Homo sapiens: one gene and its partners. The protein of the gene in region 3 purifies or fractionates together with the protein of the main gene of each other region. This does not show direct contact. Each region holds a gene or a part of one and is shown on either strand. Other genes may lie near its edges. The genes, in order: RAPGEF4, GABBR2 and RADX.

The links.
Region 1: the proteins of RADX (region 3) and RAPGEF4 purify together in Homo sapiens (affinity purification with mass spectrometry; one large-scale study listed by BioGRID and IntAct). This does not show direct contact.
Region 2: the proteins of RADX (region 3) and GABBR2 purify together in Homo sapiens (affinity purification with mass spectrometry; one large-scale study listed by BioGRID and IntAct). This does not show direct contact.

What each region holds. Positions count from the first base shown.
Region 1 is NC_000002.12:173,029,274-173,032,929, forward strand, and holds part of RAPGEF4 (rap guanine nucleotide exchange factor 4), read left to right. Parts: intron 1-890; coding exon 891-981; intron 982-3,656.
Region 2 is NC_000009.12:98,387,355-98,391,010, forward strand, and holds part of GABBR2 (gamma-aminobutyric acid type B receptor subunit 2 precursor), read right to left. Parts: intron 1,651-3,656; coding exon 1,500-1,650; intron 1-1,499. UniProt on the Homo sapiens protein: Component of a heterodimeric G-protein coupled receptor for GABA, formed by GABBR1 and GABBR2. Within the heterodimeric GABA receptor, only GABBR1 seems to bind agonists, while GABBR2 mediates coupling to G proteins.
Region 3 is NC_000023.11:106,621,826-106,625,481, forward strand, and holds part of RADX (RPA-related protein RADX), read left to right. Parts: intron 1-825; coding exon 826-968; intron 969-3,264; coding exon 3,265-3,457; intron 3,458-3,656.

The DNA of each region.
Region 1 (3,656 bases), on a different chromosome or scaffold from region 3:
GTTAATCCAAACAGGATTTCATTATGATATGGTCAATTTCGATAACCATATTGATTCAGGATGAAGGATTTATGCGTATTGCAAAATGAATTCTTTCCCTTTTCAGGGACCTGGTATGAAGAAGTTTGGGGTTTCTCTTTCTAAAAAATGGTTAAACCAAGTACCTGTGTTAAACATCACCATTCTAATAAGAATTTCTGTTTTTTTCCACATGTCTCATTCCCAAACATATATTCATAAAAGCTAATAATGGCGTAAGTACAGATTCAAAATGATCAGCTTCATTGATGTCAGTAAAACACAGAGAAGGTTATTTCTTGGTCAGTTGTTTAGGTTACTTCTCAGCTTTAAAATTCCTTGAGATTGAGTGCCCAGCCTATAGAGATCACACCTTATAAGTTGATATTTTTCAACAAACAAGTAGCATTTGCATGGCAGGTAGAAGCCATGGTGGCTGCAGCTGTGAGACTCCCTTAGTGCCCTCTCAAGCTGCCAGAGGAGGATATCCACCTTCAGGCTAAAGGTCTAGAAATCTCCAAGGGCACTTCACTTTTTTTCTTACCCCATGAGATATTTCCCTCTCGGTCCAACAAGGCTTTTAGCAAGTTTGGGATTATAATAACAACCCCTAAGGTAGGTGTCTTTAAGTTCCTTCTCAGATCCCAAACCTCAATGGCTAACGTCTTCAACTTTCTAAAAACACAGTGAGAAATCAAACAGCAGAACATGGTCACCCAAGTGGAACTTTTACAGTACATTAAATCTATCATTGCCTGTTCTCATAAATGAGCCCTGACAAATATTAATGACTATCAGAAAATAGAACTCTAATTTTTTTTATCTCACACAGAAGTAACATTTTACTCAAACACGCATCTCCTGTGTTTCAGCTGTAAGGAGTATAAAAATCTGAATTCCTTTTTTGCCATCGTCATGGGACTAAGTAACGTTGCTGTGAGCCGCTTGGCACTAACGTGGGAGGTAAGCTTCAGCTAGGATCCAGCTGTGACTTTTGCCTTAGGAATAAAAACACAGGCTCACCAGTGAGCTTTTTAATAGAAATATCACTCACACTAGTATAACAATGGGAAAGGTGGGACACTTGGAGGGAGGTGACCTGTCTCCTTTTTCCAGTTGCCTCAGAGGGAGAATTTTTAAAAGATATTGTCCTTTTGTGTATGGAGAGTGGGGGAGATGAGGAGATGTCTACTTCTTGATATATGCAATGTAAATAAAAATAAGTCCAGTTCCTAAGTATAACATGAAGGACCCACATTGCTGGGAATGACTTCATAAGTTTGCTCATAGATTGTATTGTTTTCTGAAATGTCTGCTTGTTGCTTTTGCCATAAATCTTATCTTTAATTGAAAGAGGACAGAAGATCCATTTTTATCCAAGTACTCATTTTGCTTCTGGAAGGAAGAGCCAGGAAGCCAACTGTTTGCAGCAGTTGAGTACTAAGTGTCGCCTCACCACCTGGCAGACTTCTCTCCACGGAGAGGAACAACAGTTGGCTAATATTCAGTTTGGGGCAAAAGTGAGGCAGGTGTGTTGTGAGTCTCTGTAGCAAATATAATGAATGGTTTGTCGAGAGTTGGGTATTCAAGCTAGAAAACATCTTCATTTATTATTAGCTTTGTACTCAAAATGTGCTTGACCTCTTACACGTGGCATATAGTTGAAGAAATACTAATCTCTAATAGAACATACATACAGAAATAGACTCATGCTAAAAATAAAAAATTGTGTGTAAGTGGGACACAGAAAGAGGGCAAGGAGTATGTATTAGAGACCCAACTTGCAATGGTGCTTAAAGGCAGCTGTTTGCATCTCTAAATGCTTTTCTGAAATTATTTTCTTCCCCATGTCCTTCTTGCAATGATTTTCTTTTTCCGTCCCTCCTAAATGTTTCCATTGTTTGTAGGGCAGGTCCTCACAAGTCCTTCTGTCTTGGGTTTCTCTTAAAATTCCAGGCAGATGCAGCACACAGCAGCTCATCCCCTGAATATAGGAATGAGGGAATTGGTGAGGCCTGCGTGCCATGCAGCTATATCATCTTCCAGCTAGTAAAAGGACGGAGCTCGTGCTGCCAAGAGATCTAAGCACAAAGCCATAATGCAACTCCCTCGTCTTATAGTCCAAGGCTCTTGGGATTGCTGGAGACCTAGGGTCCTCCTGCAAAGAGTCTGCCTTCCCCAGTCAGCTACCAGCTTCTAATCCCCCTGCCACAGAGTCCAAATTAGTTGGTTGGGGACATTTTAAAAAACCATAAAGCCTCAAAGGGTCCAAGGAGGCCAGGTGTGGGTACCACAGATCAGCCAGACAATAAGAACAGAGCATGTGGGAAACACTCTCTGAACCCTCTTTCCCAGTCTAAATAAAAAAGTAGGAGGCTGCTGAAGAGGGTGCAGGCAGCAAAAGGAGATAGCTAACTGGCCAGTCCTTTGGTTTCACTAGGGATGGGAGTTCTGTGAGTCTATGAGCTTCTGTTTTCAGCACTGAATGTTGCTGAAAAGAGGAAATTATCCTTTCATCATTTATAAGCCTTTGTTTTTTAAGGTGAAGTATAATTATATAATTCTGTATGGGAGATTTCATTCCTAAGCACCTTTGATTCTAGTTTATGTACCTGCACTTGCCGAGAAAACCTCCCAAAAGCCTCCCATGCAACTCCATTGAGCACCACAGTGACCACAAGAGCAGTGTGAGAAATGCTGCCTGGCCTCATGGAACTAGGGGACACGTGTGGAACAGCCACGGAATAAAATAGAAAGGAAAGCCAGAGCACACAATAAAGGGAAGGGTTCAAAACTGAGGGGGAAGATCAAGCTGAGATGAAGCAAATGAGAATTACCTGGAGCACACACACTCTCTCAGCCTCAGCACTGGTGACATCTGGAGCAGAACAGTTCTTGGTCGTGGAGACGTCTTCTCTGTTGCAGGACAATTAGGAGCATCCCTGGCCTCTCCCCACCAGATGCTGGAAGCACCTCTTACCATGCCCCACCCCGGCTGTGACAACAAAAAAATGTCTGCACACATTACCAAATGCCTCCTGGATTGGCAGGATGGCCCTATTGAAAACACTGCTCTAGAAGCATGGGGGGGTGGATAAATAATAGTATTAAGAATGAAAGAAACATTTTTTATTACCCTGTGCCCTACTGTCTTTGACCTAAAAGAAAGCTAAGTAAAGAAAGAGAACAGATGACAGAGGTCTTGCCAAAAACATAATCCACTCTTATTTTTTTAAATGGACTAAATTCAGTAAGTCAATGTTTTTGCATAACTTGGTGATCTGGATACTCTGTGTGGGGTGAGATCCTGGCATCCCTTGATGCCCATCCCAGCTTTCAGCCCTTTGAATAGTCTCCCCTAAGTGAGGGCATCAAGTCTTCCTGAACCCTAACTTGAAATGCCAGAAAAATGAGTTTGGAGGATATACAGGGACTAGTTTTTAGAAACAAAATCGGGGTTTTACAGATGTTTAAATGGGAATATGACAAACTGAGATAGGAAAGAGAAAGAGCCAAGAAGAGCCATTCTGTGGATTGCAGAGGCCCAATTGGTGAATCAACTGTTGAAGGTAGGCTTCACTGTTCAAAGCCTCCTCCCAGATGACCCAGGAGTCTCTGAGACCCAGGGGTTGGTTGAT
Region 2 (3,656 bases), on a different chromosome or scaffold from region 3:
TGGGGCAACTTGCTGTCCTGATGGGACTTCTCGAGGCATCTGGGCTGTCAATCTAACTTTGAGAGCTGATTATGTGCCCAGGCCTGTGCCAAGTGCTAAGAGGTATGTTGAGCATTTAAGGTTTGTATGGAGTGGACAAAAGTTGCCTCACTTTTTTTTGTGGCAGTATATGTGCTATTTGTTGTAAGTAAAATAAAATAACAGGAGAAGAAAACTCTTTTCTGTTTTTCAGGAAATAGGTTTGACCTAAGCAACTGCTATCAAAAAAAGCCAAACAAACAACAAAATAACCCCGGACACAGTGGCTCATGCCTCTAATTCCAGCAACTTGGGAGGCTGAGGCAGGAGGATCGCTTGAGTCCAGGAGTTTGAGAAAAGCCTAGGCAGCATAGTGAGACTGTCTCTTAAAAAAGTAAAATAAAATAAAATAAATTAATTAAAATAATTAATTAATTAATTAAAAAACCAAGCACACACACAAAAGTCTAGAGCCTCCAAATTCCTTCTTTGCAAGCAGGGAGAAATTTAAAAATCTCAAAAACCAAAAAAACTGTTTTCTTCAGAATCAGACTTGTTCCCGACAGCCCACGAGTTCATGCAATGTGGCTTCTGGGCACCATGGCAGAGCCATGGCACCATGTAGGTGGTCACTGTGGCTGTCCCCATGACGGCCCATGCTCTGCACCCCTGCTTATTCCACAAAAAGGCTTGGGGCTGGGTTCAGGGATTTGCTATGGACACCAAAGAAGCAAAATGCACTTGGTAAAAACCACCGCCTGGAGTGGCGGCCTGTTCTACCCATGACTGACCAGAATAACTCAGTCAGCCTCTCTCCTCTGGAGAATTAAGGGCACGTGGTGGGGAAAAGAAATTAAGACAAGAAACCAAGAAGACAGTCTGCCACGAGTGGACAGCAGCACTCTGTCGCTGAACTTCAGGGCTTTTCTCTGTGAAATGAGGAGTTATCCGGAGGGTCATACGGGATGATGGAAGGGAGGGCTTCCTGGCCGTAATGAACTGTACCAATGGGAGTCCATTTCACTGGACTTTGTGACCCCCTTCAGTGGTGATTCCCAGCGATGCTAGGGGATAGGGGCAAAGAAGTTTGGGGTATTCTGTCTTCTATATCTCTCCTCCTGGACCTCCACAAAGTACAGGAGTATATCCAAAGCTCTGAGAAGGCCCGTGGACTTGGACTCTTCGATTTTATTTAACTTCCTCAAACTTATTTGACTAAACTCCTGTGCAACCAGCAGCCTGGCCTCTGTGTGTGTGTGTGTGTGTGTGTGTGTGTGTGTGTGTGTGTGCGTGCACGCACACACACGTACTCACATGCATGTAACACCTACAACATCCTAGCAACGGAGGAACACTTTGGGAAACTCTGCCCTGCAGACTTCTGTGTCCCTGGGGAATCTGTCATGTGGCACTCCTATACTGTGTCCATAGGCTTGTCAATTTAGAAAGTGATATCACAGAGGAGGACCAGGGTGGCTTACTTCTGATTCCGGTTCTTGATGTTGAAGAAGAGAAAAGCACTGGCCATGATCATCCCGAGGATGGTGAGGGCAGAGAGGATGCTGTAGAGAGGTAGGGAGATCTTCCGCAGCTGCTCCAGGATGATGGTCTTGTCTTTTGGTGGTTCGGATCCTAGAGGATCAAGAGAAGACATCAGTGGGACCCAATGCAAGTCATTCCCCGAGAACACCTTTGCCTTAGTGTCCCTGACATCCAGCCAGGCCCTGCGCACAAACTCTACACAAGGCACATCTATCTACCGGGTGAGCCAGATCCGGTGGTTGGCCAGTCTGCTCAACAGGGAGCCTGAGCTAGGACTGTATTTCTTTCTCTAAATAGAATCAATAAAGGATTTGTGATGCATTTAATAGCCATTAGAAGACTAGAATTTGATTTGGTCTAATTACACTATTGAAAAACCATCACCATTTATCCCCCAAGGCAACAACGGCCTGGAAGCACAGGGCTGGGTGATGTGAGTGGGTACCCGTGGGTGCCTTCGGGGATGAAGAACTTGGCTTTGGCCTCAAGATCTCTGCTCCTAAACATACACAATAAATGATCCCTCCTCAACAGGATGGACACCTTGCCTGTTGGTTCCATGGTGACACATAGGTGTTTTGGCTGCAGAATTTCTGCTTCAATGTCATTGTGTTTTAAAAGCTCTATCTGGCTTTCTGTTTCCACAAGACTCTGAGTAACTGTGGGAGGCAGAAGCTACCTTCCTCTCCCTGCTGTGCCAGAACTGGCCTGGAACTGTGGGATTCCATTTCTCTATGTGACTGCAGAGGTGCGCTGCTCATTCTTCAAGAGCACAAGGAACTCGGGGGAACCCTGAGGGTTTCAGAGCAAATCCATCTTTCAGTCCTGTTTTAGTTTTAGCAGACATAGACTGGTTTGGGATGAGGGATTCAGGGACTCCCCCAGCTTCCTGCGAATCCCTCTTTCTTAGCTGCTATTTTAGGTCAGGTTTCTGCTGTGGAATTGTGAAACTTCAGGGCTTTTCTCTCCAGTAGGGGTATGTGGAATCAGCCGGATGTTACAAAGTAGCCAAGCCTGGGAATCTGGGAGCCCCACCAGGGTCCCAGTTATGCCTCTCTTCCCAGGAGACAAGCAGGAAAGGGGCAGATGTGGTAGCAGGGAGTGAGAACTCCCCTGAACATCTGGGTTTAAAACACTGCTAGCAAGTTCAAATGTGTTTAGAAATATTCAGTGGCTTTGGCTGAGCGTGGTGGCTCATGCCTGTAATCCCAGCACTTTGGGAGGCCAAGGCGGGTGGATCACTTGAGGTCAGGAGCTCGAGACCAGCCTGGCCAACATGGGGAAACCCCGTCTCTACCGAAAATACGAAAATAGCTGGGTGTGCTGGTGCACACCTGTAGTCCCAGATACTCGGGAGACTGAGGCAGGAAAATCGCTTGAACCCAGGAGATGGAGGCTGCAGTGAGCCAAGATTATGCCACTGCACTCCAGCCTGGGTGACAGAGCAAGACTCCATCTCACAAAAAAAAAAAAAAAAAAAAAAAAAAATAGAGAGCGAGAAACATTCAGTGGATTAAAAGAGTTTGAACCATGTAAGAAATTTAGGAAAGTTTCCAGGTTTGAAAACATCAAGGAACCTGCTGATGTGGTTAATGTGAAGCCTTAAGCAATTCCATGTAAACTAACATTTATAAGAAAAGTGGCATCAAGGGCCAAAAGTCTGGGCTAAAGCAGACACAAGGAGATGGAGGTAACATCATTTCTTGCTTCCAGATGGTGAAAGCTCACCATCTGGAAGCTTCTTCCACCTCTGTCCATCATCCTTCCCCAAACACCTGGCTCAGGTGCCTTCTGGCTACCAAATGCAAGAACAGTGCTGGGGCATCTGTGAGATCCTGGCTGGAAACAAGCCCTTCTATGGACACTGAGAAAGAAGACTGAGGTTTGGTTCACAGGTGATATGATCACTACTGGGTTTGGGGCCTATTGTATAGAAACAACTCCAGAAAATTGACAATAGACAAGAGAAAGTTGTCTCCTTCTTACTCCTTCTTCTGTTCCTGCAAAATGATGGCTCCACAAGGGGTATTAAGACTTTGTGGAAACCAAATGCTTGGTTTATCATGAGTATTAGTAACAGCAGAAGTCCTGAGTTT
Region 3 (3,656 bases):
ATACAGGGCCATGTCTGTCATGTTTGCGGGAGATAGAATTTATACATATGAAACTGAGGTGAAGGCAATACAAAAAATGTGTAATAAAACAATTCTATGGTTTTTTTTTTTTTTTTTTTGAGACAGGCTCTCAATTGCTCAGGCTGGAATGCAGTGGTGTGATCATGGTTCACTGCAGCCTGGCTGCAGTGAGCTCAGCTGCCTGGGCTCAGGTGATCCTCCCACTTCAGCCTCTTGAGTAGCTGGAGCTATAGGCACATGCCACCAGGCCCAGCTAATTTTTGTCTTTTTGGAGAGACATGGGGGTTTTGCCATGTTGCCCAGGCTGGTCTCAAACTCCTCGGCACAAGCAAGCTGATGGTCTTGCCCTCCTGAAGTGCTCAGATTATAGGCATTAGCCACTGCACCTGGCCCATTTCTATAAATTAAATATATAAGTGCTTAGTAATGGGAAAAATATTCCATGACATTGAGGTTTTTTTTTTCACAAAATATCTTAAGGGAGGTGAGTTTAAATCCAGGTTTTCCAGGAAGTTATTAAATGGTTTGGTAAGATGGAGGGCATTCTAGGTGGGACAATGTGTTGGTTAATATAGGTGTTTACCTATGTTCCAGGCACATAGTAAGCCCTATATATATTTCAGCTGTTAATATTAGGGATCAAATGTAGTTTATGAGAGGTAATAGACTTAGCTGGCAAGGTTTAGCTGGCAAGAAGGAGTCACTTTAGGTATGATCAAGCTACTATTTTTAACCATTAAAATAGATCTTTGAAGTTACCATTACATGTTAAACAGGATTTCTTTCCTCTTTTTTATATTCTAGATACCAAAATAATTTCCCTTTCTCATCTTGAAATGACCTGGACTAACAGAAGAAATTTTCCTGCATTGCTTGTGAGGATCTTACATAAATCAAAACTGCGATACTATGGAAAACCTGATAAAAAGATGATTGAACCATATCAGGTACAAGTAATAAGATATCATATGTTAATTTAAAAGTTATAAATTATAGCTTACACACCTCACTCCATAGTATGATAACCTGTTCGTTTAAATAACATTTCATAAGTTCAATGTAATAATTTTTAAATGTACGTAAATGTATATTATAAAGTATTTTTCTGCATAATTTATTGTACAAAAAGAAATTATTTCTGTATTGGTGCCCTTTATTTCCCTGATCCAGGTGGTCTCCTTCCCACCTTTTTATTTTCCTTCAACCTTTTCTTCTCACCTATGCTTTCTGTGCCAATATATAAACATACTCTAGTCTCCCATTTAAAAAAAGAAAAGAAAAGAATCTCCTTTGGCCTTATGACTCTTCTATTCCCTATCTTTCTCTTCAGGTAAGCTTCTTGAAGAAGTAGTCTACACTAGATGTTTTTACTTTCTTGCCTCCCATTTCTCAACACAGTTAGCTTGGCTTTTTTCCTTAGCTTATCATTCACTAGTAACTCTAATTGTCAAATCTGTGTGATACTTCTCTATTGTCTTGACTCTCTGTGCCATATAATGCTCATGAGCTCTACTTTCTTGATATGTTTGTGTTCTATTTTTTTCTTACTTAATATTATATTGTACTTTCCCATGATATCAAGAACTATTTTAGATGTTTCATTAAACTTTTATTATGAAAGTTATACATGCTTATTGTAGGGAATTTGGAAAATGTAGAAAGCTGTTTGAAGATCTTACCACTCAGAGAGAGCCACTGTTAACATGGTGTGTTTTATTCCCTTTCTTGTGTGTGTAAATCACATATATACACATATACAAGCATATCATATATATATATACATACACATATCTATGATATTTAATCATATATATCACATATATGTGCATATGTAGATGTATTATATATTTCATGTGAGTGTGTATATCATATATCACATTACATTATTTTACAAAATGGGAACCATATTGTGCATACAATTTTGTGTCGTTTAACATTTTCTTAAATATTTTCTCATATCACTAAAAATTCTTCATCCATAATACTTTACAGTTATATATTTTTAGCACATTCTATCATAAATTATTCAGTCATTCCCCGATAGTTTTTTGCCTTCTCATTGTTGCAATACTTTCCTCCCTGATTTTTTAACTCCGCTTATTTGTTGCCTTCCTACCTCTTTGTGCCTCCATCATTTCGCCCTTGCTTGCCTCTCCAGTCTCATCTCTTCCTGAGCTCTCTATGCTTCATACTAACCAAATTGCCCTACCTGGAATGTTCTAACAGTAACCAATTGTTTTCTACCTTTCATACCTCTGCTCACGTTGTTTCTTCTGCCTAGAATCCTCTTCCTCTCACTTCTCATCAGATTGGCAAAGCCATCTTTAAGATTCAGTTCAGTGCTTACCTCTGATTTAAGTCTTTCCATGTATACCCATATGCCTAGTCACTGGGAGAATCAACTACATGCTACTCAGGACCCCACTATATGCCCTTACATAGGTCTATCAGAGCATGCATAACCCAGTTACACATACCTGTTAATAGATTTGCTAATCTTACTCTACTGTGCGCTCCCTGACTGTAGGGAAGAAGTATCTAACAGTGCTTAAGAGTGCATGCCCTGTGGTCATATGAACTGAATTCAAGTTTCAGCTGTTTACCATTTCTTACCTTTATGATGTAGGGAAAATTATTTATCCTTTTAAAGCCTCAGTTTACTCATCTGTAAAATATGGATACTAATTGTACTTACCTTACAGGATTGATGTGAGGATTGAATTAGTAAAGGATTTACCTATGTTCCAGGCACATAGCAAGTCCTATATATATTTTAGCTATTATTATTAGGTACAATGTTTGATTCATCTCTGCATTCCAGGGCCTAACATAATCTCTGGAATATGGATTCAGTAAATGTTTAATGAATAAAGGAATGAATTACCCAAAATGTATATTCATCATTTAGAGAAAGGGTCTGAGAATATAACATCATTATTTAAGAAGAAATTAAGAATTAGAAAACACTTTACGGACTGCCTTTTAGGCCCAACTGAAGTTGTCTGTCACTGTATTTTAATACTGAGAAAAACTCCAAATACTTTCCACCTCAATACATTTCTCTATCTCTAATCTTTAGATGATCAATATTAGCAAAATTGACAACTGAATCATTATTAATAAATAATTAAAATTTAGATGTTATTTTCCATCACTCTAAATGATCACAAATAATATGCTATATATTATCTGTACAGATAAAAGTGACAAATATGTATGTGCTTTTACTCATTTTCTTTCTAGACCTTTTTGGAAGTTGCTGACAGTTCAGGCACAGTGTCAGTGATTATGTGGAATGCCCTGTGTCCTGAGTGGTATAAAAGTTTGCGGGTTGGTTTAGTTCTTCTGCTTCAAGACTATTCTGTTAAAAAGAGTTATCCATTCAGAATACAGCCTGTCCCCGTGGATCCACAGATCAAACTAATTTCTACAATGGGTTAAGTATTCCATGAATTTGTTGTCTTATCGCTGTTTTGTTTATATAAATTTGCAATGTACCATATTAGGAAAAAAGACCACAAAAATTACTGAAGCTGTTAGAACCTATGAAACCTTTAAATTTATTTGTCCATAAAATTTTCAAGCAATCACATAACCTAATAAATATACCTATTTATTATTTTATTTATTAAGAA